Linked DNA regions of Homo sapiens. The protein of the gene in region 2 purifies or fractionates together with the protein of the main gene of each other region. This does not show direct contact. Each region holds a gene or a part of one and is shown on either strand. Other genes may lie near its edges.

Region 1 (5,320 bases), on a different chromosome or scaffold from region 2:
CATATTCTGCCTTCACCAATCATCACTTTTAGCTAGCCTATTCTTTCCAGTGTCTGTTTACAACGACCCTACGAAACTAGTGCTAATGTCTTCTCTCCCCTTGCAGGCAACTGCCCCTCTCCATTTGGTGCCACTTGGTTACTCTGCAACCTCAGCTTTCCAATGGATTCGAAAAAATGTCCTAATTTATAGTTCATCTGGCTCGTTTGCATTGTAAGAGTAGAAGAAATGCTCCTTCTACCCCTACATCCCGGAGTGGAAGCTGGAAGTGCTGTGATTTAAAAATGTATATATGTAAAACACACATTTTATTGAATGTAAAACATGAGTGTAATTAATCCTAAAACCAGAATTCAGAAAATGAGCCATTTTTAATTTTTTTATCTAGTTTTTTAAATGTTTGAATTATAAAGGTGATAAGATTAGAAAAATTTGGGAAATAGAAAACCCCAAGAGCTATTTTCTTTTTTGCATATTCATTTGAATTTTTATGTGGTAATATTTTTAGATTTCTCCTCATTCTACCTCTCATTCTCACATCTACCAATACATGCCTTCATAGTCTAGATTTATAGAAGTTTTAGAACTCTGCTTAGGGATGCTTAAGAGCAAATGGTAAGATTAGCCACAGTGTAGTTTGGGACATCAGTAGTACGGGCTGCTCTCTTTCTAAAATCCTTTTCTCTGGCTGGCATGTTGACCGGGAGTCTCCCTTCCATTCCTGCTCTGCAGACCCTGCGGGCCAGAGTCCTTGCCCGAGACCTTCAGGTCAGTCAGTGTCTCCTGGTGTGCATTTGGGAAAGGCTGCTGCATAGGCTCACCTCCCACTGGGTTTCATTTGACCTAGTGAACCCGTAGCAACTCGATTTGGCTTAATTGGCCACCCCTAATCCTGTAGCTGTCATACTACTCAATGTAATGACTAGCAGGGACAACTTTTTCATCATCTTTAGTTAAACTCCAGTTACTCATTTGGAAAATGGTTTCCCCAAATGTGTATCATTCTTGACAGTTTTTCACATTTGTTTCCCTGGTCCTAAAGCAAGATTATAAAAATCAAATAGAACCTGTGTGTGAGGGCCCTTGTTTGCACAATGAGGAGAGGACACACTTCATCTGGAGGTTGCGTGACTGGGGCAGCATCCTACAGCTCAGCATAAGAGGCAGGCTCAACCAACTGCCCAGGGAAGAGCGCTTCTTACTAAACATATTCAACAGTTGGGGCTCTCAGAAAAGAATGTGACTTGTTTTAAATGTAAGTAAGGGATCTTCCATAAGGTTATTCCTAGGCCAAGCAAAAGGAGGTTCCCTAAAGCACAATAGAAAAAGTGTTCTTTACTAATTGCTGTTAAGATGACAGATGGGGCTGGGCGTGGTGTCTCACACCTGTAAATCCCAGCACTTGGGGAGGCCAAGGCAGGCAGATCACTTGAGGTCAGGTGTTCAAGACCAGTCTGGCCAACATGGCAAAACCCCGTCTCTACTAAAAACACAAAAGCCAGGCGTGGTGGCCGACGCCTGTAATCCCAGCATCCTGGGAGGCTGAGGCACAAGAATTGCTTGAACCTGGGAGGCAGAGGTTGCAGTGAGCCGAGATTGCACCACTGCACTCCAGCCAGGGTGACACAGCAGGACTCTTGTCTCAAAAAAGAAAAAAAAAAAAAAAAAAGACAGATGGAAACTTGCAATCAAAAAGAAAATGATGCACTTAGGGAGGCCGAGGTGGGAGGGTGGATCATCTGAGGTCAGGAGTTCGAGACCAGCCTGGCCAACATGGTGAAACCCCACCTCCACTAATAATAATAAAATGAGCTGGGTGTGGTGGCGGGCGCCTGTAATCCCAGCTACTTGGGAGATTGAGGCAGGAAAATCGCTTGAACCTGGGAGGCAGAGGTTGTGGTGAGCCAAGATCACGTCACTGCACTCCGGCCTGGGTGACAGAATGAAACTCCATCTCAAAAGAAGGAAAGGAAATGATGCACACTGACAGCAACAGGGGGCGGGTGTGGGGGGGAATGCTCAGTTATGCAGCTTGTCAGTACAGACAGTTGTTTCTGATAATTTGGTAACTTGGGTAAATTTCTATGATGTTCAAATGATTTTACTGTACCTAGTGGTTCCCTTCTGTCTTGCTGTGTGCTGCTCCTTCAGAAAGAGGTGTTCCTTTTGATCTAAGTAATACTATATTTTAGGGAATTTTTTCAAGTGTAACACTTACTAATCAAAATGTTCCTTTTCTGTCATTCCCTGCTTCAGTAAACCCCTTCAAATATGTCCTTCTTTCAAAACTTCACCTTTTTTTTCTCAATTGTTCATTTGGTTCTATATAAAGTCATGCCAAGGACTGAATGAATTTAGGGAATTAGGAGTTGAAGATTTTTGAAACTATGTAAAATTAATTGTAAAGGCCTTCTTTACTGGTAGGCAGGAGAACAGTGCAGTGTATTGACAAGGTTGACTCGTTTGGAAGGTCAGTTCCCTCCCTTCAGATGCAGGTGTCGTAAGTGACTTCCCTCCCCCACATTGTCCTTTTTGTCTCTGTCTCCTTTTACTCACTTATCAGCAGTCCTTGGGAGGCTTTCCACCACAGCTCATCTGATGATTTCCTTACTTTCTTCTAGCTTGAAACTCAAAGAGGCTAAGCGAAAGGGGAAAGCTTGGTTAGATGCAGAGTTCTAAGAATGAAGTAGTTGGGAGATTTGATGACCACCGCTTAGTCCTTGGCAGGTCGGGTTCCTCTTTTCTTTTAGGATTATAACACCACTCCCTCTCCTCGCAGTTCAGCTAATGAAGAGAACATGTATAAGGCTAAATACCTCTCTTCTGGGGTAAAATAATGTTACAGCAGCATTTAGCAAATCTTCTTTTTAAATGTTCCAAGCTTCCAAACTTAACGTCCATCTCAGGATTTTATTTTCCAGTTCTGAAGAAATCTGCACAAATTTAAACAGTAAATAACTTACCTTTCCTTTAAATAAAAAGACAAATGACTAGTGGTTTTTAAATTGCCAGGTTTTATTAAGATAATTGGCAAAATTTCAACATACACCTTACCTGAATGAACACTTTTAATAAAATATGAAGGATCACTCATGACTACAACTGAACTCAAAAGTGAGATGTAGAGCAGATTTGTAAATTGATAAATTTATTTGGTAAGAAATTATTCACTTCATTCGCTTCACTCCATAGAGAATTCTTTGCAGAGAAATGTTATGAACAAGAGAACAAAGCCTGTCTCTCACCAAAGAGCACCTAGAGTAAGAGTTTACAATGATGTATCTGGATTATCTAATTCATCAAAGTTTATTTCCTTTTCAAAAACAACTGCTGTGTCAGTCTGGAGTTCCCTATTTCATGTTTTCTAATTATTACAATAAATAGTCTTCAAAATAGAAGATAAAATGCTGCTTTAAGAAGTAACAGTTATTTTTCAACACCATACCATTTGTCTGGAAAATCATTGTGTTGTAATACTGGTGGTATCTTACTTTGTTTTGCAAGAGACATTTAAGCTATTTGCAGATCAGAATAGAAGAGTGGGCATTTGTCCTTTAACATCACGTGATTTTCAAAGGTGAAAAAAATTTCTTTTGCTAACTTACGATTCAAAGAAAAATGGTCTCAAATTAAAGTGTGGACAAAACTGTAGTATTCCCTTTTATAGCCTTGCTTAGGTAAGAATGTTCACTGAGTGAATAAATTAGGTTTAAAAATTAAAACAATAATTTAGATCATTTTCCCACAAAGCCTTATCAAGGATTTGATGGGGAAGGAAGCACTTGAACCACAGCAGTTTTATCTGTAAACACTGAACTTGGCCATGCATCATTTTCATCTGCCCACTGGATGTTGCACTTCTCACTGGCACAGTGTTTCAACAGTGGAGTGTGGTTGTCATGAAAATGCAGTATTGACACTATACCACTATAAATGTGGTCAAAATTAGACTCAGTGTTGACATTGACATTGTTGCCATTGTCCTTGGAAAAGGTGTTACTTTCAAGGAGCCTCCTAAATGCAACAGTAACTTTAATCATAATAATTCAAGGACAATGGATGGCACTTCTAGGTAAAGAAAAGGTATATACATATGTGTTTCTACCCATCCTCTTTAGTACAGACCTAAATGGGATTAATAGCCCCAGTGTGTGTTGCTGTAATGTTGCCTAACCTCATGTCCCTCAAAAGTACACATCTAGAAAGTGAACAAAGGAAACCTGTAAATTAGGGACTGACTCCCTTTGAAACTCACAGTGAATGTACAAGGAGTTTGTAATGACTTCAGTTGGTGACCTGAAGTTTGTTTCCCTAACCAATATTACACTCTTGTTTGGATTTATTTTACTATTTCCTATTCTAACTTGTTTAGCAGGCAAACAGATTGATGCAGACCATGTTAAATTGAAAAAGGGATACTGCCACTCTTTAAGGATTGAGTGTAGAACTTTCACCACCACTAAATTACACAATGAATAAAAATACAAAACACATAATTCACAGACTATACCTCAGCATTAACAGTTTATAGATATTATATAGATACTTTTATATCTGTCTAATATTTTTACAATCACCAGGTACACCATCATTAAATACAAGTTACAGAAATATGTAGATACCATTAGTTAGAGGGTTACTTATTGCTTACGTCAGCAAGCAGCAAATAAGGGCACAGGATTTGAACTGAAGGGAACTACTTCCTATCACCAGTGGCGTTAAGAGAGAACACTGCATTTCACAAAGCACTGCTTTTATCTAGTTTATAGAACCAAGAGCAGCATATATCAGACCAATAACCACTATTTTAGTATGTATTATAGAATTTTAAAGGATTTACCTTACAAATGGTACCTAACTACTCTATAAATACGCATGTTGTGAACAAATGAATAGTTGCTATTTTTCACAATATTGGTTTATAACGACCACACTAGAACTACTTTGCTTTATTTTGTAGAGAGCTAATGGCATGAGAAATGAGTTAACACTGCTGTGTAGTCGGACCTACAAAATCCAGACCCCTAAAGATGGGTCTGTGTTTGTCCCAGTTCTATCCAGCCATTTTTTTCCCCACTGAGAAAGCCTAGCATGTGTAGTAACTTTTTCCCTTTACCCTCTTTATTCTGATCAAAAACATTACCAATAGACAACAATAGAAATTTTAAAAAGCTTTTTTTTTTACTTCGCTAAGCACTTTGGACTATAATGTGTACCAATAGTCTGCTGCCTTTGTTTTCTTGTTTTCTTAGATAATTTGATTTGAAACTGACACTGCACCTGATGGGTTAACAAGATCTAGGCTTCAGAAGGTGACAGA
Region 2 (5,994 bases):
ATCGCTTGAACCTGGGAGGCGGAGGTTGCAGTGAGCTGAGATCACGCAGTTGCATTCCAGCCTGGGCGACACAGCGAGACTCTGTCTCAAACAAAACAAAACAAAACACCAGAAACAAAAACAGCCCCTTAAAAACTCCACTTTTTGCAAACCTGAGGTAGTAGATGCTGCAGATGGGTACCTGTGTCCACTCTCAGACAGGTGAGAACAGGGCCTCATAGACTTAGGGACAGCTCAGGAGACCCAGATGTGCACTTATGGTTAACTTGGTTCTCTTGTCCCAACTTAACTCTCTTTTTGTCTTTAAATAGGTACATGTGCTCCCTGTCATTGTTCCACTATTCTGAATACTTGGTGACAGCAGTCAATAATCCCAAAAGTCTGTCCTTGGATTCCTTTCTCCTGAATCACAGCCTGGAGTATACAGTAGCTGCTCTTTCTTCTTGGTTAGAGTTCACACTTGAAAATATCTTTTGGCCAGGTTCGTGTGCCTTATGTCCCCCTCTGGAGGGGAAAAGGGTGGCTCCCATTCAGGCTGAGGACAGTGACATTGATTCACCTTTCAGGTCTAATCTCCCCCAAGCGATTTTCCGCAGACCTCTATCCTCACTAAGCTATTTATAAAGGATGAGCTCCGCTCATGAATTCTGCCTCTGGATATTGACTCGAGGACGTGCTGACCTTTTGCTTTAAAGTTTGCATCACATAGTGCACCATCTAATTTGAAGCCCCAACCTTGAGTAGTTGTGATTCTAATTTTATAATCAGATGATATTTAGACGTTTCATGTAAGAGTTTACTGGCCGGGCACGGTGGCGAACGCCTGTAATCCCAGCACTTTGGGAGGTCGAGGCGGGTGGATCACAAGGTCAGGAGTTCGAGACCAGCCTGGCCAATATGGTGAAACCCCGTCTCTACTAAAAATACAAAAAAGCCAGGCGTAGTGGCACATGCCTGTAATCCCAGCTACTCGGGAGGCTGAGGCAGGAGAACTGCTTGAATCCGGGAGGCGGAGGTTGCAGTGAGCCGTGATCGCGCCACTGCACTCCAGCCTGGGTGACAGAGCGAGACTCCCATCTCAAAAAAAAAAAAAGAGTTTACTAACAAGGTCGGGTGCAGTGGCTCACGCCTTTAATCCCAGCACTTTGGGAGGCCGAGGTGGGTGGATCACATGAGGTCAGGAGTTTGAAACCAGCCTGACCAGCATGGTAAAACCCCGTCTCTACGAAAAATACAAAATTAGCCGGGCCTGGTAGTGCATGCCTGTAATTCTAGCTACTTGGGAGGCTGAGGCAGGAGAATTGCTTGAACCCAGGAGATGGAGGTTGCAGTGAGCTGAGATTGTGCCATTGCACTCCAGCCTGGGCAATGAGAGTGAAACTCCGTCTCAAAAAATAAAAGCCTCCGTATGTGGAATGCACTCTGAAATTGAATGTCTCACAGCCAATGAAATGAAATACATGTGGCTCCTGGGATTCAGGGTGGAAACCTTGGACCCTTTTTTGCTTCTCTTAGCTATACTTGTCCCCAGATGAAGGACTGAGCATGTGGCCGGGGGTCGTGAACCAGAGAGCCCATCAGCTGTAGCAGGAGAGCATCTCTTTACCATGATGCTTTCATTGTGCTTATTGGTGTTTTAAAGTAAATTGATGAACAGCATAACTTAGGGGAATGTGTTTTCTTATGAAATTTTAATGTGATGACAAATGCTGATTGCCCAGCAGCACATTTTCTGTTTCTGTCTTCGGGAAAATAGGTTAATTTTAAGCAGTGCGAAGGGGAGCTCAGGCCAGTGTTTTCACTCCCCGTGTGTCGTTGATGTCTCTCTCCCACAGAACTGAAGCAGATTACCTGGCTCAGTGTCACAGGGCTGCTGATGGTGGTCTTCGGAGAATGTCTGAGGAAGGCGGCCATGTTTACAGCTGGCTCCAATTTCAACCACGTGGTACAGAATGAAAAATCAGATACACATACTCTGGTGACCAGTGGAGTGTACGCTTGGTTTCGGCATCCTTCTTACGTCGGGTGGTTTTACTGGAGTATTGGAACTCAGGTATAATATTAAATATGACACTGCTTTTCTTTTTTTTTTTTTTAAGTAACATTTTAAACGTGATATTCACGTAGCATAAAAGTCACCATTTCAAAATATACAATTAGTGGTTTTCAGTGTATTCATGAGGTTGTTGGTCTCCTTTAAATAATAGGTACATGTTCTTCTTGGCGCGTTTCAAGTGATAATTTAATAAAAGTCAAGAGAACTAATGTAGTCCTTAATGCTTTTCACTATGTGCCCAGAACCTGGGTGCGTAAGTCCTTGGTGATTCTTGGTGCTGTTAGCTACCTGCTGTATCCCTTCATCCTGTTTCTGCCTCTGTTTGTTTGTTTTCTTTTTTCTTTTTTTTTTTTTGGTAGAGACAGGGTCTTACTGTGTTGCCTGGGCAGGTCTCAAACTCTTGGCCTTAAGTGATCCTCCCACCTCAGCCTCGCAAAGTGCTAGCATTATAGGCATGAGCCATTGTGCCTCTCCCTTTCTCTGCCCCTTCAACCTATTAATAGATCTGAAGCACCCCAGAGGGGGTGAGGACAGAGATGGGGCTTAGGGAAGGGAGTGCCCTCTGTCACTCATGTGGCAGCTTGGCTAGTTTTCATCAGAAATAGGTATTAATGGGGCCGAGGCCATGTGTTAGTGAGCTGTGTGAGCCATGGAGGTTTGTTCTGTCTCAGGCTGAAGAAAAGGCCTTGTTTCGTTTCTTTTCTTTTCTTTCTTTCTTTTTTTTTTTTGAGACCTAGTCTTGCTCTGTTGACCAGGCCAGAGTGCAGTGGTGCGATCTTGGTTCACTGCAACCTCTGCCTCCCAAGTAGCTGGAACTGTAGGCACGAACCACCATGCCTGACTACTTTTCGTATTTTTTTTGTAGAGACAGGGTTTCTCGAGTTGCCCAGAGCCATCTTGAACTACTGAGCTCAAGCAGTCTGCCTTCCTGGGCCTCTCAAAGTGCTGGGATTACAGGCTTGAGCTACAGTGCCTGGCCTTTTTTTTTTTTTTTTCCTTTTTGAGATGGAGTCTCACTCTGTTGCCCTGTTGCCCAGGCTGGAGTGCAGTGGCATGATCTCAGGTCACTGCAACCTCTGCCTCCCAGGTTCAAGCGATTCTCTTGCTTCAGCCTCCTGAGTAGCTGGGACTACAGGCGCCCGCCACCACACCCGGCTAATTGTTTGTATTTTTAGTAGAGATGAGGTTTGACTGTGTTAGCCAGGATGGTCTTGATCTCCTGACCTCATGATCTGCCCGCCTCGGCCTCCCAAAGTGCTGGGATTATAGGCATGAGCCACCGTGCCCAGCTTTTTTTTTTTTTTTTTTTTTTAAAGACAGGATCTTGCTGTGTTGCCCAGCCTGGAGTGCAGTGTTCTGATCATGGCTCACTGCAGCCTTGACCTCCTGAGCTCAAGTGATCCTCCTACCTCAGCCTCCCAAGTAGCTGGAATACATTACAGGTGTTGCCACCACGTCCGGCTAATTTTTAAATTTTTTGTAGAGGTGGTTCTCCTGGACGGTTGCCTGTAATCCCAGCACTTTGAGAGGCTGAAGTGGGTGGGTCACTTGACATCAGGAGTTTGAGACAAGCCTAGCCAACATGGCAAAACCCCATCTCTATTAAAAATACAAAAATTAGTTGGGCCTGGTGGCACATGCCTATAGTCTCAGCTACTCGGGAGGCTGAGACCTGAGAACCGCTTGAACCTGGGAGGTGGAGGTTGCAGTGAGCTGAGATTGTGCCACTGCACTCCAGCCTGGGTGATGGAGTGAGACTCTGTCTCAAAAAAAAAAGAGATGGTTCCTCCTTTGTTGCCCATGCTGGTCTTGAACTCCTGGGCTCAAGCCATCCTCCTACCTTGGCCTTCTAAAGTGCTGGGATTAGGCCAGGCATGGTGGTTCTTACTTATAATTCCAGCTAGTCGAGAGACTGAGGCACAATATTTGCTTGAACCTGGGAGGCAGAGGTTGCAGTGAGCTGAGATCACGCCACTGCACTCCAGCCAGGGTGACACAGCAAGAATCTGTCTCAAAAAGAAAAAAAGAAAAAGAAGTGTAAGGATTATAGGTGTGAGCCACTGCACCTGCTCTATGTGTGTGTGTGTGTGTGTGTGTGTGTGTGTGTGTGTGTGTATTTTTTTTATTTATGTATGGTTTTTTGTTTTGTTTTGAGGCAGGGTCTCTCACCCAGGCTATAGTGCATTGGCATGATCATGGTTTACTGCAGCCTCTACCTCTTGGGCTCAAGTGATCCTCCCACCTTAGTCTCCTAAGTATCTGCCCAGGCTGGAGTGCGGTGTCACAATCTCGGCTCATTGCAACCTCCGCCTCCCGGGTTTGAGTGATTCTCCTGCCTCAGCCTTCTAAGTAGCTGAAACTACAGATGTGTGTCATCACACCTGGCTAATTTTTGTATTTTTTAATTAATTTATTTTTTTGAGATGGAGTTTCACTCTTGTTGCCCAGGCTGGAGTGCAATCATGTGATCTCAGCTCACTGCAACCTCTGCCTCCCGGGTTCAAGCGATTCTCCTGCCTCAGCCTCCTGAGTAGCTGGGATTACAGGCATGCGCCACCATACCCGGCTAATTTTGTATTTTTAGTAGAGACGGGGTTTCTCCATGTTGGTCAGGCTGTTCTCGAACTCCCAACCTCAGGTGATCTGCCTGCCTTGGCCTCCCAAAGCGTTGGGATTACAGACATGAGCCACCATGCCCAGCCCCTGGCTAATTTTTGTATTTTTGTAGAGACGGGGTTTTTCCATGTTGCCTAGGCTGGCCTCGAACTCCTGCGGTTGAGTGATCTACCCGCCTCGGCCTCTCAAAGTGCTGGGATTACAGGCGTGAGCCACCACATGTATTTCTTTTTCTTTCTTTTTTTTTTTTGAGACAGAGTCTCACTTTGTCGCCCAGGCTGGAGTGCAGTGGTGCGATCTTGGCTCACTGCAACCTCCACCTCCCGGGTTCAAGTGAGTCTCCTGCCTCAGCCCCCGCGAGTAGCTGGGATTACAGTTGTGCACTACCTCGCCCAGCTAATTTTTTGTATTTTTAGTAGGTTTAGTAGGGGTTTCACTGTGTTGGCCAGGCGGTTCTCAAACTCCTGACCTCAGATGATCCACCCGCTTCAGCCTCCCAAAGTGCTGGGATTACAGGCGTGAGCCACTGCATCCAACCCGCATATTTCTTTTTTAAAATTACTATTTGGCTAGGCACAGTGGCTTTGGGAGACCAGAGCAGGAGGATTGCTTGAGGCCAGGAATTAGAAACCAGCTTGGCTGGCCGGGCATGGTGGCTCATGCCTGTAATCCCAGCACTTTGGGAGGCTGAGGCAGGCAGATCATGAGGTCAGGAGATCAAGACCATCCTGGCTAACACAGTGAAGCCTCATCTCTACTAAAAATACAAACAATTAGCCTGGTGTGGTGGCACGCATCTGTAGTCCCAGCTACTTGGGAGGCTGAGGCAGGAGAATGGCGTGAACCCGGGAGGCGGAGCTTGCAGTGAGCCGAGATCGCGCCACCGTACTCCAGCCTGGGCGACAGAGCGAGACTCCATCTCAAAAAAAAAAAAGAAAAAGAAACCAGCTTGGCCAACATAGTGAGAACCCTTCTCTCCAGAGGAAAAAACTAAAAATATATCTGGAAGTTGTAGTGTGCACCTGTAGTCCCAGCTACTCAGGAGGCTGAGGCAGGAGGATCGCTTTGATTGCTGCTGTACTCCAGTCTGGGCAACAGAGTGAGACCCTGTCTTAAAAACAGAAAACAAAATTATTTATTTGTGTATTAAAGATGAGATCTCGCTGTGTTGCCCAAGCTAGTCTCAAACTCCTGGGTTCCAGCAGACCTTCTGCTTTTGTCTCCTGAGTAGCTGGGACTATAAGTGTGCACCACCATGCCCAGCTAACTTTTTGTTTTTTGTAGAGATGGGGTCTTAGTGTTGCCCAGGCAGATTTTGAACT
Region 3 (5,994 bases), on a different chromosome or scaffold from region 2:
TTCTGTCACTTGCAACCCAGTCGTCCTGAATAACACACACAATTCAAACCTGGGTTTATGTTAATTCAAGACCTGTGCTCTTAATAGCTTGCTATTCTGTTTTTTTGTTTTGTTTTTTGGAGACAGGGTCACCTAGGCTGGAGTACAGTGGTGTGATCACAGCTCACTGCAGCCTTGGCCTCCCAGGCTCAAGCATTCCTTCCACCTCAGTCTCCTGAGTAACTGGGACCACAGGTGCATGCCACTATGCCCAGCTAATTTTATTTTATTATTATTATTATTATTATTATTATTTTTTGTAGAGATGAGGTCTCACTATGTTGCCCAGGCTGGCCTCAAATTCCTGGGCTCAATAATCAACCCACATCAGCCATCCATAGTGCTGGGATTACAGCTGTGAGCCACCATGTCTGGCCAACAGCTTGCTATTCTGTTTTTGATTACTAGGCTTATCAGGAGATCAGGTTAGAAAGGGATCTCCCTCCCCCCTCCCCCAACCCTCCCCCTCTCCCTCGCTTCTTCCTTCTCCCTCTGTTGCTGAGGCTGGACTGTACTGCCGTGATCTCAGCTCCCTGCAACCTCCCTGCCTCGGGCTCCCGTGATTCTCCTGCCTCGGCCTGCCGAGTGCCTGGGATCGCAGGCACACGCCGCCACACCTGACTGGTTTTTGTATTTTTGGTGGAGACGGGGTTTCGCCGTGTTGACCAGGCTGGTCTCCAGCTCTTGACCTCGAGTGATCTGCCCGCCTCGGCCTCCCGAGGTGCTGGGATTGCAGACGGAGTCTCGCTCACTCAATGCTCAATGTTGCCCAGGCTGGAGTGCAGTGGCGTGATCTCGGCTCGCTACAACCTCCACCTCCCAGCCGCCTGCCTTGGCCTCCAAAAGTGCTAAGATTACAGGCTCTGCCCGGCCGCCACCCCATCTAGGAAGTGAGGAGCGTCTCTGCCTGGCCGCCCATCGTCTGGGATGTGAGGAGCCCCTCTGCCCGGCCACCCCATCTGGGAGGTGAGAAGCGCCTCTGCCCAGCTGCCCATCGTCTGGGATGTGAGGAGCGCCTCTGCCCGGCCGCCCCGTCTGGGAAGTGAGGAGCGCCTCTGCCCAGCTGCCCCGTCTAGGAAGTGAGGAGCGCCTCTGCCTGGCTGCCCATCGTCTGGGATGTGAGGAGCGCCTCTGCCCGGCCGCCCCGTCTGGGAAGTGAGGAGCGCCTCTGCCCAGCTGCCCCGTCTGGGAAGTGAGGAGCCCCTCTGCCCGGCTGCCCTGTCTGGGAGGTGAGAAGCGCCTCTGCCCGGCTGCCCATCGTCTGGGATGTGAGGAGCGCCTCTGCCCGGCCACCCCGTCTGGGAAGTAAGGAGCCCCTCTGCCCGGCCGCCCCGTCTGGGATGTGAGGAGCCCTTCTGCCCGGCCGCCCCGTCTGGGAGGTGAGGAGCCCCTCTGCCCGGCCGCCCCATCTGGGAGGTGAGGAGCACCTCTGCCCAGCCGCCCCGTCTGGGAGGTTAGGAGCCCTTCTGCCTGGCCGCCCCATCTGGGAAGTGAGGAGCACCTCTGCCTGGCCGCCACCCCGTCTAGGAAGTGAGGAGCGCCTCTGCCTGGCTGCCCATCGTCTGTCTGGGAGGTGAGAAGCGCCTCTGCCCGGCCGCCCCGTCTGGGAGGTGAGGAGCGTCTCTGCCCGGCTGCCCATCGTCTGGGATGTGAGGAGCGCCTCTGCCCGGCCGCCCCGTCTGGGAGGTGAGGAGCGCCTCTGCCCGGCCGCCCCGTCTGGGAGGTGTGGAGCACCTCTGCCTGGCCGCCCCGTCTGGGAAGTGAGGAGCGCCTCTGCCCAGCCGCCCCGTCTGGGAAGTGAGAAGTGCCTCTGCCCGGCCGCCCGGTCTGGGAGGTGTACCCAACAGCTCCGAAGAGACAGCGACCATTGAGAATGGGCCATGATGACGATGGCAGTTTTGTCAAAAAGAAAAGGGGGAAATGTGGGGAAAAGAAAGAGAGATCAGATTGTTACTGTGTCTGTGTAGAAAGAAGTAGACATAGGAGACTCCATTTTGTTCTGTACTAAGAAAAATTCTTCTGCCTTGGGATGCTGTTAGTCTATAACCTTACCCCCAACCCCGTGCTCTCTGAAACATGTGCTGTGTCCACTCAGGGTTAAATGGATTAAGGGTGGTGCAAGATGTGCTTTGTTAAACAGATGCTTGAAGGCAGCATGCTCGTTAAGAGTCATCACCACTCCCTAATCTCAAGTACCCAGGGACATAAACACTGAGGAAGGCTGCAGGGTCCTCTGCCTAGGAAAACCAGAGACCTTTGTTCACGTGTTTATCTGCTGACCTTCTCTCCACTATTATCCTATGACCCTGCCACATCCCCCTCTCTGAGAAACACCCAAGAATGATCAATAAATACTGAAAAAAAAAAAGAAAAGGATCAGCGTGGCCTAGGGCAATACACAAAGCTTGCATGAGGGAAGGGAGCCTCAAAGCACGGATGGATGAATCTAACTAGGCAGAAAAGCAGGAAAGCAGGGTAAAGGCCTGGAGGTGGAAGTGAAGAAGGTTCTGCATGGAGCTGAGATGCCTGGCTTACTGGAGCCAGAGAAAGAGAAGGGACGGGCGGCTCGATCTTCAGACTGGACAGATAGCCAGTAACCCTGAGGACTGCTCAGTGGTCTGAGACGAGTGACCAACACAGAGGCCCCACCCAGCTCCTTCCTCAGTAGCCATCAGGGTAAGGCCTCAAAAAGCAGAGAGTGATAACCTCCAGGCCCAGAGAACTTGGGTGGCGAAAGAGGTAACAGCCTTCAGTTTCTTGCTCTGATACCTCCAAACTTGGCAAAAAGTAGGATGTTCGGTACGAGGAATAAAGGGATTTTGGAAGCATGAACACTTAGATGTGTGTATCTGGAAGTTATGTGTACCCAGCATACACTAGAGGCTCAGTGACTACCTCCTCCTCCACCTCAGGAAGCACCTTGGTCAATGAGAATCCCTGTCATTAGTCCAGCCTAACTTAGTAGGACAGGAAAAAAAAAAAAAGAGGGGGGCTGGGCCCAGTGGCTCATGCCTGTACTCCCAGCATTTTGGGAGGCTGAGGTGTACAGATCACCTGAGGTCAGGAGTTCGAGACCAGCCTGGCCAACACAGTGAAACCCTGTCTCTATATAAAAATACTAAATTAGCCAGGCTTGGTGGTGTGCGCCTGTAATCCCAGCTACTTGGGAGGCTGAGGCAGGACAATCACTTAAACCTGGGAGGCGGAGGTTGCAGTGAGCCAGGATCACGCCATTGCACTCCAGCCTGGGCAGTAAGAGTGAAACTGTCTCAAAAAGAAAACAACAACAACAACAACAACAACAAAAAACAACTCTAAAAAATTAAAAATTAAAAATTAAAAATTAACTGGGTATGGTGGCACACATCTGTAGTTCCAGCTACTCAGGAGGCAGAAACAGGATGATCACTTAAGCCTGGGAGGTCAAGGCTGCAGTGAGCTATGACCGTACCACTGCACTTTAGCCTGGGTGACAGAGTAAGACCTTATTGCAAAAAAAAAAAAAAAAAAAAAAAAAGCAGGCACACAGAGTGGACACTCAGCAACCAGCTTGCAAATCAAGATTAGACTGGGCACAGTGGCTCATGCCTGTAATCCCAGCAGTTTGGGAGGGTGAGCTGGGCAGATCACATGAGGCCAGGCATTCAAGACCAGCCTGACCAACATGACGAAACTCCGTCTCTACTAAAAATACAAAAATTAGCCCAGCATGGTGGTGCACACCTGTAATCTCAGCTACTGGGGAGGCTGAGGCATGAGAATTGCTTGAACCTCACAGGCAGAGGTTGCAGTGAGCTGAGATGGCACCACTGCACTGCCTGGGCAATACAAAAAGACTCTGTCTCAAAAAAAAAAAAAAAAAAAAAGATTAATCAGCACCTGCCTGGTTTTCTTCTCCTGGAACTCTGCCCACGGGAGGCAGATCATGGAATGGTAAAGGCATCCTCTCCCCCAGCTCATGTCCTGAGGATGAGCAACCTCAACCCTGTCCCAAGTTCCTGGCTCCACAGACTTAGCACACTGAGCCCCCAGCCTGTGCCAGCTAGGTCTCAATCACTAGCAAATGCTGCTGAAAACAATGGTGATGGCACAATGGCAGATAACCTGAAACAAGGTTAGACTCTTCTCTCCTTCCCAGCTTTCCAAGTCTACCATATGGGGACAATGACACCACGACAGTTGAGGAGTGCATGCCATACACTTAAAATCCTCAAGGCAGTCAGCAGCATCTGCAGGGCTGCCTGGCAGAAAAGGAAGGGGTTTCATCCTGAACAAGTCAAGCGGTAACCCACAAATGGGGACCACAGAGAGACTAATTTTGCTTCTATTTAAAGAATGGTGACATACAAGACAATGAAAAGCTTGAACAGAAAAAAAACTAAGGAAATGAAGGCAAATATAATGAGAGAATAAAGAAAGGCAACTAGAAACTCCAAGAAAAACAAAAGTAACATAAGAAAGCAAATGTAACTGTTAAACATTATTTGGCTCTGTTGGAACAATATTTATTAAATACATGGCTTAAATAACATACACATTTTATATTAATTTTCAATGTTTAGAGTCAATCCACAGATAAAACATGGAAGATAATTACGGTTTTAAAGCAGCAGATAATTATAGTCTACTTTGATAACATGAAAACAGAGGACAGAAATTGTAGGAAGGGGTGAGGAAAGCTAAAGTTTAGGGTAGGGGACTAATATCATCTTTTTATTTTAGTTTTGGAGACAAGGTCTTGCTCTGTCACCCAGGCTGGAGTGCAGTGACACAGTCATGGCTCATTGCAGCCTTGACCTCCCAGGCTCAAGCAATCCTCCCATCTCAGCCTCCTGAGTAGCTGGGACCACAGAAAGGCATGTGCTGTCACACATGGCTAATTTTTAAAATTTTTCCTTTTTTCTAAAAGGAATCAAAGGCTGGGCGCAGTGGCTCATGCCTGTAATCCCAGTACTTTGGGAGGCCAAGGCAGGTGGATCACCTGAGGTCAGGAGTTAGAGACCAGCCTGGCCAACACGGTGAAACGTCATCTCTACTAAAAATACAAAAATTAGATGGGCGTGATGGTGGGCACCTGTAATCCCAGCTACTCGGGAGGCTGAGGCAGAATTGCTTGAACTCTGGAGGTGGAGGTTGCAGTGAGCCAAGATGGCACCACTGCACTCTAGCCTAGGGGACAAGAGTGAAACTCCATCTCAAAAAAAGAATAAAATAAAATAAACCAAGAAATAGCAGTTGAGTGTAGTTTTTAAGAGTGTGGACTTGGCTGGGCGCGGTGGCTCAGGCCTGTAATCCCAGCACTTTGGGAGGCTGAGGCGGGTGAATCACAAAGTCAGAAGTTTGAGACCAGCCTGGCCAACATGGTGAAACGCCGTCTCTACTAAAAATACAAAAAATTAGCTGGGCGTGGTGCCGAGCACCTGTAATCCCAGCTACTTGGGAGGCTGAGGCAGGAGAATCGCTTGAACCCGGGAGGCGGAGATTGCAGTGAGCTGAGATCATGCCACTGCACTCCAGCCTGGGTAACAGTGTGAGACTCCATCTCAAAAAAAAAAAAAAAAAAGAGTCTGGACTTTGGAGACTGTTTGGGTTCATATCCCAGCTCTGCCACTAACCAGATCTTGAGCAAGTCACTTAACTTCTTGGGCCTTAATGTCCTCATTTGTAAAATGGAGATAATAGTAGATCCTATCCCTTTTTTTTCTTTTTTGAGACGGAGTCTCACTCTTGTTGCCCAGGCTGGAGTATAATGGCGCGATCTTGGCCCACCGCAACCTCCGCCTCCTGAGTTCAAGTAATTCTCCTGCCTCAGCCTCCCGAGTAGCTGGGACTACATGCGCATGACACCATGCCTGGCTAATTTTTGTATTTTTAGTAGAGACAGGGTTTCTCCATGTTGGTCAGGCTGGTCTTGAACTCCTGACCTCCTGATCCGCCCATCTCGGCCTCCCAAAG
Region 4 (5,994 bases), on a different chromosome or scaffold from region 2:
CCTTCCTCACTAAGCTTAATGATTTCTAGTTTTTGATTCAAAGTGAGAGATGTGTGACTCTTCCTTTCACTAGAACGCTTAGAAGATTATTAATTGGCCTAATTTCAATATTGTTGTATCTCAGAGAATTAGGGAAGCCTGAGGAGAGGGAGAGACATAGGGGAATAACTGCTTGGAGAAGTCAAAACTCACACATTTATCAATTATGTTTCTCCAACTTATATGGGCGTGGTTCACGGCACCCCAAAATATTTACAATAAGAATATCGAAGATCACTGATCACAGATCACCATAACAGACATAGTAATAATGAAAAAATTATCAAAATGTTTCACAGAGACACCAAGTAAGTATGTGCTATTGGAAAGATGACACCAATACAGTTGCTCAAAGCAGGGTTGCCACAAACCCTCAATCTGTAAAAACAACAAAAAAAAAGCAGTATCTGCAGGGTCAATAAAGCCAAGATATGAGGTACATCTGTATCTGCCTTCAAACCCCACAGCAAGATACTGGCTCTAGCTCCAAAATACATTCCAAGTCTGACCAGTTCTCAGCAACTCCAGTGCCCTAGCACAAGTTACCATCATCTCTAGCTTGGTCTTCTACAACAGCTTCCTGATGGGTCTCTCTGTTTCCACTCTTCCCACCCCAGTCCCCAATCCTACTCCCACCCCTACTAAGACATTCGCTACGTACTAGTCACAAACGTCTTTTCCAAACATAAATTCAATGTGCTTAAATGCCTCCAACTGGACTCTCATTACTAAATTCCAAATACAAGCCCCTGATGACTCTGTCCCGCCTACCCACTCCTCCTCCCTCATCTCCTAAGATCACCCCCTCATTCAGTTCACTCCAACCACAGCAGCCACATTCATCCCTTAATTATGCCAAATGCAATCTCCCCTCAGAGCTTTTGCCCTGGCACTCCTTGGTCTGCAATGCTAGGCCCCCATATAGTCACATGGCTGGCTGGCTCAGTTTCCTGTCCAAATGCCACATGCTCAGAAATGTCCCCCATGGTCTCATTAGGTAACATCCCCAACTCAGCACCACTACCACTCTCTATCCCATTAACCTATCTTTTTCCTTCGAGAGCACTTCTCACTCTCTGAACTTTTCTATTTATACGAGCACAGTCTCCTTACTCAAATGTAACCACAATGGGAGCAGAAACAGTCACAATTATATTCCCAGCTCTAAGTAGTGTCTGACACATACTACGTGTAGGTGAATTGAACGATAGCCCCTAAAATGATGTGTCCACGTCCTGGAACCTGTGATAAAGTGTCTTTGCCAATACAACAAAGTGAAGGATCTTGAGATGAAATCATCCTAGATCTTGTCATGGCCCTAAATCCAATGAAAAGTGTCTTTATAAAAGAATGAGAGGGAAAGACGCACAAGAAGGAGGAGGAGAAGGCAGCCATGTGAAGACAGAGGCAGAGACTGGAGTGATGCAGCCACAAGCCAAGGAATGAATGCAGCCACCAGAAGCTCAAAGAGGCAAGAAAGGATTCTCCCCTAGAGCCTTCAGGCGAAGCATGGCCCTGCTCATGCCTTGATTTCAGACTTCAGGCCTTTAGTACTGTGGGAGAATGAATTTGTTGTTTTAAGCCACCAGGTCCATGGTCATTTGTACAGCAGCTCTAGGAAACCAAAGGTTTCTTGAATAAATAATACCAAAGAGAGGGCAGGCACGGTGGCTCACATCTGTAATCCCAGCACTTTGGGAGGCCGAGGCAGGCGGATCAATTGAGGTCAAGAGTTCAAGACCAGCCAGGCCGACATGGTGAAACCCCGTCTCTACTAAAAATATAAAAATTAGCTGGGCATGGTGGCACATGCCTGTAATCCCAGCTACTCAGGAGGCTGAGGCAGGAGAATCACTTGAACCCCGGAGGCGGAGGTTGCCGTGAGCGGAGATCACACCACTGAACTCCAGCCTGGACAACATGAGACTCTATCTCAAAAACAAACAAACAATACCAAAGAGAGTATGCCACATGGATGCTGTATTAGGTTTTGTGAATGAAATCACAAAACTGTATCTTCCAACATTCTTTAAATTCACTTTTATTTTGATCTTATTAGGTTGATCCCATCAGTTTGTGGGGTTTTTTCTAACGAAAATGTCAATAGGCATTTAAAATAAAGAAACTAATTTTTGAAAGTTATGCAATATGCTTATCTTTCAAAAAATATAATTTTGCTTCAACTATTCAAGAGTGTTGTCAAAAGCAGTATTTTTTGTATATAACACTTTACCATGCTACTAAAATTATTCTCATTAAAGATCAAAGATCTTTTCAAATTCTTTCACCAATCTTTTTTTTTTTTTTTTTTTTTTGAGACAGATTTTCGCTCTTGTTGCCCAGGCTGGAGTGCAGTGGTGCAATCTCGGCTCACTGCAACCTCCACCTCCTGGGTTCAAGTGATTCTCCTGCCTCAGCCTCCCAAGTAGCTGAGATTACAGGCATGCGCCACCATGCCCGGCTAATTTTGTATTTTTAGTAGAGACGGGATTTCTCCATGTTGGTCAGGCTGGTCTTGAACTCCCGACCTCAGGTGATCTGCCTGCCTCGGCCTCCCAAAGTGCTGGGATTACAGGCATGAGCCATCGTGCCCAGACTTTTTTTTGAGACAGGGTCTTGCTGTGTCACCCAGGCTGTAGTACATTGGTGTGATCACAGCTCACTGCAGCCTTGACCTCCTGGGCTCAAGTGATCCTCCCTCCTCAGCCTCCCAAGTACCTAGAACCACAGGCACGTGCCACCACACCCAGCTAATTTTTATTTTATTTTATTTTATTTTGTAGAGATAGCCGGGGGTGGGGGTGGTATCATTATGTTGCCTAGGCTGGTCTCAAACTCCTGAGCTCAAGAAATCCTCCCACTTTGGCCTCCCAAAGGGTTGAGATTGCAGGCGTGAGCTACCACACCTGGCCTCATCAATCTTTTATTCCTTAGCCTCTCTGCACCTGGGACATAGTTAGGGAATATGTTTTAATTTCTTTTTCTCTCCTCTGTACGTGCCATAGTACCTGGAACTTAGAAAATGCTCCACAAACACTTTCTGAGTAAAGAGCTAGATCTCTAGACAAATGAATGAATGAATGCTAACTACTTCTTGAAATTTCTTTCCTAGGTTTGGTAACACTACACTACATTGGCTCCTCTCAAACCATACCTCTAACTCCTCTTGTCTCTTCTTCCTTCTTCCAAATCCTAATTTAGGGTTATAAAACGAAGCATTTATTCAATTAAATATTAACTGACTCACTATATCCGTCAGGGCTCACAGTTCTAACTCTAACTCTAGCCTCGTATCCCTGGCCCAAAAGCCAGCCACTGATACCCAGCACCTCAGCATGGCTCCTGCGGGCATCTAACTCCAGATACCTACAATGAAACACTATGTTTCCAGCCCCACCAAAAAAGTGTTTCTTCCCAAATTCCTTTTTCATCCTTGTTCTCCCACCTACATTTTTTAAAGTTTGGAATCATTTAAACAAATCCTTTTCCCTCACTCTTCATCAAAAATGTCACATCTTTTCCTCTTAGAAAAGGACTAGAGCAGTTTTTACCTCTGTTCTGAACCTCTCAGGAACAGAATAAAATCCAAATGGTAGATGTATAAATATATAAATGTCTATAAACATTTTTTTACACCAGAAACTAGTTTCTGTAATAATCTCAGAAATTTCTTTTCCCAAATGATTTGTCAGAAATTTATCAGCATGTTGGAAACATTAACCTCCAGGCAATTCTAAAGCATTCATATAAGCCTAAACATTCTTTTCCATATTTACTGATTACAAAAGAAAATAATGGATGTCAAGTAACACAGGGCTTAAACATTCAAATTTCATGAATGCATCACACAATGAGACCATGATTCAAATGAGACAATTTGTAATTAGAAAAGCAAGCTGAGGTGGGTGGATTGCTTGAGTTCAGGAGTTTGAGACCAGCCTGGGCAACATAGCAAAACCCCATCTCTACAAAAAATAAAAATTAAAATTAAAAAATAGCCAGGTGTGGTCGTACGTGCCTGTGGTCCCACCTACTTGGGAGGCTGAGATGGGAGGATGGCTTGAGCCCAGGAGGCAGAGGCTGCAGTAGGCCAAGATCATGCCACTGCACTCCAGCCTGGCCAACAGAGCCAGACCCCATCTCAAAAAAAAAAAAGGAAGAAAGAAAAGAAAGCCTTCAGAATCATATTATCTAAGGTTCAAATTCTACTTCAGCCAATTGTGCTTTTAAGCAACTACTTAACTGCCCTGAGCTTTGTTTCCTCTACTGTAAAATTGGGATTTTTTACCTAGTTGTTATAAGGATAAAAGATATATGAAAAATCACACCATTGGGCTCGGTGGCTCATGCCTGTAATTCCAAGCACTTTGGGAGGCCAAGGCAGTGGATCAAGAGGTCAGAAGATCGAGGTGGCCAACATGGTGAAACCCCATCTCTACTAAAATACAAAAAAAAATTAGCCGGTGGTGGTGGCGTGCGCCTGTAGTCCCAGCCACTTGGGAGGCTGAGGCAAGGGAATCACTTGAACCCAGGAGGTGGAGGTTACAGTGAGCTGAGATCGCGCCACTGCACTCCAGCCTGGCAACAGAGCGAGACCCCATCTCAAAAAAAAAGAAAAGCAAAGAAAAATCATGCAAGGCATATAAGAGTTCAATAATAACTATAGCAATTACCATAAAACCAACATCCTAGAGCCACTGAAAACATTTACGCAGAAGAAAAAACTAGGCATTAAAACAGAATGTGCTTAAAAAGCTGATACACAAAACAAATAAGACTAAAAGGTGAACTCTACATATACCCTAAAAATAAATAAACTCTGTTGACTGGCTAAAAGAATGGTCAGAATTCTCTAGACTAGACCCTAGAGTTAGCTGGCTGCTTTTCAACCAACCAAAAGGTTTGCAGAGGTGGAGGGAGGGATGGGAGGGGTTAAAATCTTCAAAAGATTCAGCTTCAAACAGACTCAGTAGAGCATATTTCAAGTTCATAGAAGAGAAGCGCAGAGAGAAGCTAAGCAGCAGCTCAAGTTCCCCTAGAGTGATAGTGAACTTCAGAGATGCTTCCCACCCCAAGGAGGAATTCTTTACCGGCACAAACATAATGCTACTCTATTGTTACACATTCAGCACCTATTGTGTCAAACATTGTACTAAGAACACAGAAATAGACAAGATGCAGTCTCTGCCAACACATTAAAAGGAAAAAACCAGGTAAGAATCATCAAAGCGTATGTATTACACAGTAAGTGTATAACAAGTGTACAACAGTAAGTACAGTAACAGCCTTCCTCTCAGCCTCTCCAATCTAAAATGTCAGTGTCATCCCTCCCACCTCCAACATCAATGTCTTCCCACTGCTCTAAGACAAACACCAAACCTCATAATGTGATCTATAAGAGCCAGATGGTCTGACTCCTGCCAGCTTCCCCAACACCATCTACTCTCTGCATCAGAGCCTCTGTAGGCTTTTTTCAGTTCTTCTAACCTGTCATTCCCTCTGGCCACAGGACCTTTGCATACACTGCTCTCTCACCTATAACATTCATCTCTGTTTGTTAGAAAAGGTCACTTCATCCTTCAAAACTTGTCTCAATTTTCAGTTCCAAAGGAAAACACTCCCTTACCGTAGATAGCATAGTATGATTAAGAGCACAGGTTCTGGAGTTCTAAATCCTGTTTGCCACTTATTGGCACTATAGCTTCGAGCAAGTCACATTAACACTCAGTGCCTCACTTTCATCTTCTGTAAATGGGGGACATACGACTGTTGTGAGATTGAATAAATTAGTTCAAGCAAAGCAACAGAACAGTATCTAGAACACAGAATTCAAAATCTTGGCTTGGTCAAATCCCTCTATTTTATTTTCTTATAGCACCCGGGCATCTCCCCTAATACCATTTTACACTTGTTACAGTCTCCCTACTAGAGTAAAATTTCTAAGAAAGCAGAAAC
Region 5 (6,706 bases), on a different chromosome or scaffold from region 2:
TCCCGTCTTTCTTTTTTTTTTTTCTTTTTTTCTTTTGAGACGGAGTCTCGCTCTGTTGCCCAGGCTGCAGTGCAGTGGCACAATCTCGGCTCACTGCAAGTTCCGCCTCCCGGGTTCACGCCATTCTCCTGCCTCAGCCTCCCGAGTAGCTGGGACTACAGGCGCCCGCCACCACGCCTGGCTACTTTTTTGTATTTTTAGTACAGATGGGGTTTCACCGTGTTAGCCAGGATGGTCTACGATCTCCTGACCTCGTGATCTGCCTGCTTCGGCCTCCCAAAGTGCTGGGATTACAGGCTTGAGCTACTGCGCCCAGCCAAAAACGATCCCATCTTTTTAATACTAAGTCCAATCTGTGGGAAAAGAGTGAAACATGATTCAATTTTGAAATGACATTTTACATTTTGATTAGATTTCTTGATTCAAGCATTTTGTTACATTCTAACTTACAAAACCAGAGCTGGCTTTATAAGTGTGTGACCTGTGCAACTGTGTGTTTAGGAGGGCTCCACAATCGATTTAATGTTGTGTTGTTGCCATCTTGAAATTCTTAACGATTTTTGAACAGAAGGCCCTGCCTTTTCATTTTGCATTGTGCCCTGCAAATTTTATAGCTGGTTCTGGCTACAACTTCTAATTTATAGTTTAATTTCTAGGTCCGGGATTCTCTCCTGTTTTAGTTAGAAATCCACATGGATCGCTTTCCTCCGCACACATTCTCAATGTTTATGTTGATATAAAACTAGCAAAGGCTGCCTGCTAAGACTGCCAGACTGTAGGATGCGCTGCCAACTGAGCGCAGGACGCGCAGTGCCCTCCTTGGGCTTCAAAGGGCAGGGGCTCCATCCTTCAGCCTCAGCCATCTGTACTGTAGTGGCCTGAGCTTCTGTCACTGGCAATTCCCACATCAATGCAATGTTTGTAATAATAGTCCAGCAGACTGCGTGGAGGACTCGGTGAGAGAATAAATAGTCCTCTGAAAACTAGAGGTTATCAGTCACCTCAAGGATGAGACCCATCCTGTGAAAACCCACAGCCTCCATGCACCCCCTCTTCTTGCTGGTGTTGAGTATTTGCTCAAGTCCTGCCCTAATTTCCTTCAAGCAAATGCTTGATGGCCCAGTAACAACAGTCTCTACAGGGCAGTAAAAAGGAACTATTCAGAGAGAGCCTCTGAGTCCTATTAATGCTTGTGAAGATGATTCAACTTCAGAAAACACTTCTGACCTCTTAGCGTGTGCTGTCTGTCCTCCATCCAGGCGCTGAGGGCACAGCAGCGAGCAAACACAATGACAATGAGATAATTACAATTTATCATGGTGGCCCAGACATCGTGGGTTTACTCCCTGGCCTCTAATAGTCACCTCGCAGAGCTGATGTGAGGATGTGAGGAGATAATAAGCGTCTGGGCATTGAAAGACCTACTTTGCGGGAGTATGCGCAAGGTGCAATACAAGCACACGATTAAAAAAAAAAGGCAAGTTGTTCCTGAAAATGCATAGAGGTATTTTCCCCAATAGGAGCAGCTTAAATGCAAACAAACAGAGGAAGAAATTTAAGTTATCTTTTCTGCTAATTTCCAAACAACAGAACGTGACATCCAGCACAGCATCACTCCCTAGATCTGCAACCGAGGGGAATGCTAGTGGATAGACATGCCAACAGCGAAAAAAGCCTGTGCTCACTCCAGTGCTGGCCGCTTCTGACTGTCCAGTGCTTCTCGGGGCGCGCTCCCTCTTTCTCTTCCCACGCCCGCCTAGTCCCAGCGACCGAGGGAGGTTGCACCCGGGCGACCCTCCCCCCGCCCCGGGCTCCCGCGTAATCCCGGCCCGGCTTGGAAAGGAAGCGGGCCTGGCAAGTAGAGGCACGGCCGGGCCACGGTGGGCAGGGCGCAAGGGCGGGGCTATAGCCTAACTGCGCCGCCAAGGCTGCTGCTGGGTTTGGAAAGGAAGCGGGAGAGGAGGGGTCGGGCTGAGCTGTGGGTGGGGAAAAGGGCGGGGCCATGGATGGGCCACGTGCCTTCTTAGGTGGAGTCCGGGGCTCGGTAGGGAGAGGCGGGGCCAAGCTGAGGTGGGTGGAGAAAGAGGGCGTGTCCATGGCCTAGCTACGCCGCTGAGGCTGCTGCGGGGTTTGGAAAGGAAGCGGGAATGGCAGGGAGAGGCGGGATCAGGCTGAGGTGGGCGGGGAGTCGGGGGCGGAGCCATGAGTGGACCTCGTGCCGGCTTAGGTGGAGCCCGGGGCGCGCGGGGAGAGGCGGGACCGAGCCGAGGTGGGTGTGGCGTGGGGCGGGGCAATGGCGGGGCGGGGTTCGCCGCTCCCTGGGGCCCAGCCCAGCCACTCGATCAGCCCGCCGGCTCCGGAGCGGCTCTGCCTTCCCGAGCGCGGGACGCGGCGCCCTGGGGGAGGAGGGCGAAGCGACGCGGCGATGGCTCCGCGGGCACTCCCGGGGTCCGCCGTCCTAGCCGCTGCTGTCTTCGTGGGAGGCGCCGTGAGTTCGCCGCTGGTGGCTCCGGGTGAGTGTCCGGTCGTAGCCGGGGCGCCGGGTGCTGAGCCCGGTCCCGGGAGCGCGGAAGGAAGCGAGGGGTCGGGACGGCAGCCCCGCGGCGTCCTGCTTTCTGGCACAGCCGCGGGATCCCGGCACTGAACAACTGGCTGTCCCGCGGCGGTCCGGGCAGGGCGCGGTGCGTGGCAACGGCTCCCGTCCCTCCCCTCCCGCGGGCCCCGCTCCCGCCTTCCCTCCCTGGGGCCTCCTCCGAGGATCTGTGTTCCCCAGCGCTGGGCAGTGCGGGGCGTAGGGACCAGGCCTTCTTCGGGGGCGCTTCCTCCACGGCCGCTCGCCTCGGAACCCCGCGGACCCGTTTCCCGCCGCCCTTGTCCTCAAAGGCGCCGCGAGCGGAAGATCGTGACACAGAGCACCGGGTGCGCTGTCGGCGCCTCCTTCTCCCTTTTAAATACCTTAAAATATCCTAAAACCTGGAGGACTTTGAATCTCTTTCCACGTTTCCATTTATTTGGGTGGTTGATGGATTCTTGTAACAGGTCAAGGAGTCCACATTTCTTCCCATATATCCTGTATAAATCAGGCTCGGAAAAAGGGAAGGCGCGTTGGTAAACTTACATTTTTTTCTTCTTTTTGTTGATTCCTGTCGTCACGAAAGGAACCTTGTGTGGTCAGGGCAGGAAGCCACCAACAGAGATGCTAAAGTGTCACCAACGATGAAGCAGTTTTTAATTGAAATCAATCTTAAGAGGAGGTGTAAGTTTTATGGAAGTCCTATGTCACATCCTTGCTTTTATAATTACAGACACTAGGGATTCCTTACCACCGCTTCCCCTCTTAATTGCCACCTAACAGCTGCAGTTAAAAAAAAAACATACTTACTTGGCCATTTGGGGTTACTACAGCTGGGAATCTGACGTCAGCAAGCTCTTCCAAGCTTGATTTCAGCGGTGGTTCCTCCTCAGGCCCAAATAATAAGCAACTGGAAGCCTTTCAACAGTGACTGTCTCCTCCATAAACATCCATAAACTCTTCCTCCTGAGAACATTTCAGTCGCTTACAACTTTTACACTGACTTAGCAGTTTGGCCTTCACTTTTTCATAGAAACCAGAGCAGGTTGGAAGGGAAGGAGATGGATAATATTGTCTCCTGAGTCTTTTTAGCAGGCCCGTATTTCCGTTAGCCATCCACCTGGGGAAATGGCAGCTAGTGACATGTTTTACTGGATGGGACAATTTTTTTTTTCTTTTCCTTATTTTGATACAGGGGCTCATTTTGTCACCCAGACTGGAGTGCAGTGGCACAACCTCGGCTCACTGCAACCTCCAGCTCTCTGGTTCAAGTGATTCTCCTGCCTCAGCCTTCTGAGCAGCTGGGATTACAGGCATGTGCCACCATGCCCGGCTAATTTTTGTATTTTTAGTAGAGATGGGGTTTTGCCATATTGGCCAGGCTGGTCTCGAACTCCCGACCTCAAGTGATCCTCCTGCCTCGGCCTCCCAAAGTGCTGGTATTACAGGCATGAGCCACCATGCCCTGCTGGTTCATTTTGATTTTCATCCTGCGTTTGATTGCTGGGACACATAGGTGCATAATCAGGTTCCACTTGGATGTGAGGTTGGAGACATTCATTAGAGGGTTAGAGTCAGTTGCAACAGAATCTGGGGAAGAGTTTAATCTGGGAGTAAAATTATTAAAAATTCAGCACATGATGCATGTAATTAGCCATCATCAGCAGGAGAAATCCATCCCTAGAGTGGGTGTGTGTTTGGTTTGACCTCTGAGCAACACCCAGGTCTCAGGACTAGAATGTGACTGATGAAAGCTCTCATCTAATTGCATGACAGCCTTTTTTTTTTTTTGATGAAAATTAATGCGGAAGAAGAAACAGGTGTCTAAAAAGGAAAGGATACAGAGCACAAATTTGCCAGTATCTTGAGGCGTGTGTAAAGAGAAGATGCTCTGACCAGCCAACATCTGATCCCCTTGCAACCAAAGATGGTGTTAATGTTTGTACCTTGAGCATAGGGAAGTAGAGGGAAAGGAATGGGAAATACTGTTGAGTGCCTGCTGTGTGCCAGGCTTTGGGTTGAGTACTTTGTATGCATTTTTATTTTTATTTATTTTTTTCTTTTTGAGACGGAGTCTTGCTCTGTCGCCCAGGCTGGAGTGCAGTGGCGCGATCTCACTGCAAGCTCCGCCTCCCGGGTTCACGCCATTCTCCTGCCTCAGCCTCCAGAGTAGCTGGGACTACAGGCGCCCGCCACCATGCCTGGCTAATTTTTTATATTTTTAGTAGAGACGGGGTTTCACCGTGTTAGCCAGGATGGTCTCCATCTCCTGACCTCGTGATCCGCCCACCTTGGCCTCCCAAAGTGCTGGGATTACAGGCGTGAGCCACCGCGCCCGGCCGCATTTTTATTTGTTTATTTATTTTTATTTTTATTGTTTTTTGAGACAGAGTCTTGCTCTGACTCCCAGGCTGAGGTGCAGTGGTGCGATCTCAGCTCACTACAACCTCCACCTCCCAGGCTCAAGCAATTCTCCTGCCTCAGCCTCCCTAGTAGCTGGGATTATAGGCGCCCGCCACCATGCCTGGCAAATTTTTGTATTTTTTAGTAGAATCGGGGCTTCCCCATGTTGGCTATGCTGGTTTGTAACTCCTGACCTCAAGTGATCCGCCCTTCTCGACCTCCCAAAGTGCAGGGATTACAGGTGTGAGCCACCGCGCCCAGCCTTCATAGGCATTTTTAAACTCATTGCTCATAACCCTGTGAAATACTTACTTCCAGTAAGGCAACTGAGGCAAGAGAGGTTAAACAACTGGCTGAACATCACATAGGTACTGTGCCAGTCAGCATTCAGAGAAGCAGAACCACTAGGAGGTGTCTGTGTATGTGTGTACCTTTATATGTATCTTTATCTGGGATAACCCAGCCTGCTTGATTCCAAAGTTCATTCCCTTTCCACTGTACCCCACTGCTCTGCAGAGGAAAAATAGAATATGAGTCAACCTCTGCAATCTCGCTGAGATTCTAAGATAGTTTAGAACGTCATAAAATTGTAAGCATGTGGTTATCAGAAGTTGTCAAGTAGAGAAAAGAAGGGCAGATAGCTTCACGGTGGGTAGTGGCAATGCCTTTTTCACTTCCTTCCTAGTAGAAGAATCTCATTAAACTTGTCTCTTAGCAGCAGCATTCGAAACTATATACCACAAGCACCCAAAGGGATGATTTTCCACGTCTTGGCTTATTAATGTCCTTAAGTTCTCTGGTTACTCAACCTTCAGGTTTATTAGTTTCTCTCTCAGACAGTGGGCATAGCCCTCGAGTAAGGAGTGGGTGGAAGAGGTCCTGGGGCTGGTGAGATGAAAAATGCATTGTCCTTGGGCTGCAGGCTTCCCTCCAGCATTCTGACTCCTTTTTAGAAACTAAAGATAAGCTTTATTAAATTCTGGGGTCTCTCTTAGCCAGGTAGCTGCGAAGCTGTACATCCACATAATATATAGTGTTTGGAAAGTTTTGAAAAAGCACACCTTGGAGCTTGGGAGTCCATATCTACATTTAATTTTAAAAGGAAATGAAAAATGTGAGAAGTCTCTGTCAATTCCCTGCCCCTACCCCCTCTAAAAATGGAAATGAAATGAATCTATTTGGAAATTTGAAGAGTTGAATTTGAATGTGAGAGACCAAAGCCCCAAGTGAACAAACAACAGATTTTATTGTTTCTTTAAAAATGATTCTTTGGCCCTAATGTTGAAGTTTAATGACTTATTGAAACAATAGAGAAATGATTTAAAGCTGACAAAAAGAATAAATTAAATTGTCATTGGTATAAACTATTAGGTTGAGTGGTTCCTAATAATTTCGGACACTTAAGTGGTTGTAAAGATTTGGTGTGCTGCTGAAAGCGGGTATATTAATAATTCTGGTGTGATTTATAAAAACTAAAATCAGAATTTGGTGTTAGTACACTGTAGACACTTTACTCTTTTAGGAAAAAGGAATTCAATTTTTATTATTACCTGGTTTGTGTGCAGGCGGTAGTCTAAATACCTAGATCATTTCATTCTTACAATTAATTTCCTGTCAGTTATATACATAATTTTATTCCTGTGTTTGTAGATGAGGAAATTGAGCCTCAGAGAAGTTGAAAAAGTCACTCATGTGTAAGCTGGATTTTGTCATGGAGTCCATTGAGTCAGA

The links.
Region 1: the proteins of ICMT (region 2) and PPM1E purify together in Homo sapiens (affinity purification with mass spectrometry; one large-scale study listed by BioGRID and IntAct). This does not show direct contact.
Region 3: the proteins of ICMT (region 2) and CLN6 purify together in Homo sapiens (co-immunoprecipitation; one large-scale study listed by IntAct). This does not show direct contact.
Region 4: the proteins of ICMT (region 2) and PCCA purify together in Homo sapiens (affinity purification with mass spectrometry; 2 studies listed by BioGRID and IntAct, with this or other methods). This does not show direct contact.
Region 5: the proteins of ICMT (region 2) and RELL1 purify together in Homo sapiens (affinity purification with mass spectrometry; one large-scale study listed by BioGRID and IntAct). This does not show direct contact.

Annotation. Positions count from the first base shown.
Region 1 is NC_000017.11:58,982,854-58,988,173, reverse strand, and holds the end of PPM1E (protein phosphatase 1E), read right to left. Parts: 3' UTR 5,257-5,320; coding exon of another isoform or gene 5,253-5,256; 3' UTR 2,995-5,252; downstream 1-2,994. Other genes in the region: E3 ubiquitin-protein ligase TRIM37, read left to right, coding at 107-185. UniProt on the Homo sapiens protein: Protein phosphatase that inactivates multifunctional CaM kinases such as CAMK4 and CAMK2. Dephosphorylates and inactivates PAK. May play a role in the inhibition of actin fiber stress breakdown and in morphological changes driven by TNK2/CDC42.
Region 2 is NC_000001.11:6,227,961-6,233,954, reverse strand, and holds part of ICMT (protein-S-isoprenylcysteine O-methyltransferase), read left to right. Parts: intron 1-311; coding exon 312-481; intron 482-1,835; coding exon 1,836-2,053; intron 2,054-5,994. UniProt on the Homo sapiens protein: Catalyzes the post-translational methylation of isoprenylated C-terminal cysteine residues.
Region 3 is NC_000015.10:68,220,735-68,226,728, forward strand, and holds part of CLN6 (ceroid-lipofuscinosis neuronal protein 6), read right to left. Parts: intron 1-5,994.
Region 4 is NC_000013.11:100,090,589-100,096,582, reverse strand, and holds part of PCCA (propionyl-CoA carboxylase alpha chain, mitochondrial isoform a precursor), read right to left. Parts: intron 1-5,994. UniProt on the Homo sapiens protein: This is one of the 2 subunits of the biotin-dependent propionyl-CoA carboxylase (PCC), a mitochondrial enzyme involved in the catabolism of odd chain fatty acids, branched-chain amino acids isoleucine, threonine, methionine, and valine and other metabolites.
Region 5 is NC_000004.12:37,682,007-37,688,712, reverse strand, and holds the start of RELL1 (RELT-like protein 1 precursor), read left to right. Parts: upstream 1-2,336; 5' UTR 2,337-2,425; coding exon 2,426-2,513; intron 2,514-6,706. UniProt on the Homo sapiens protein: Induces activation of MAPK14/p38 cascade, when overexpressed. Induces apoptosis, when overexpressed.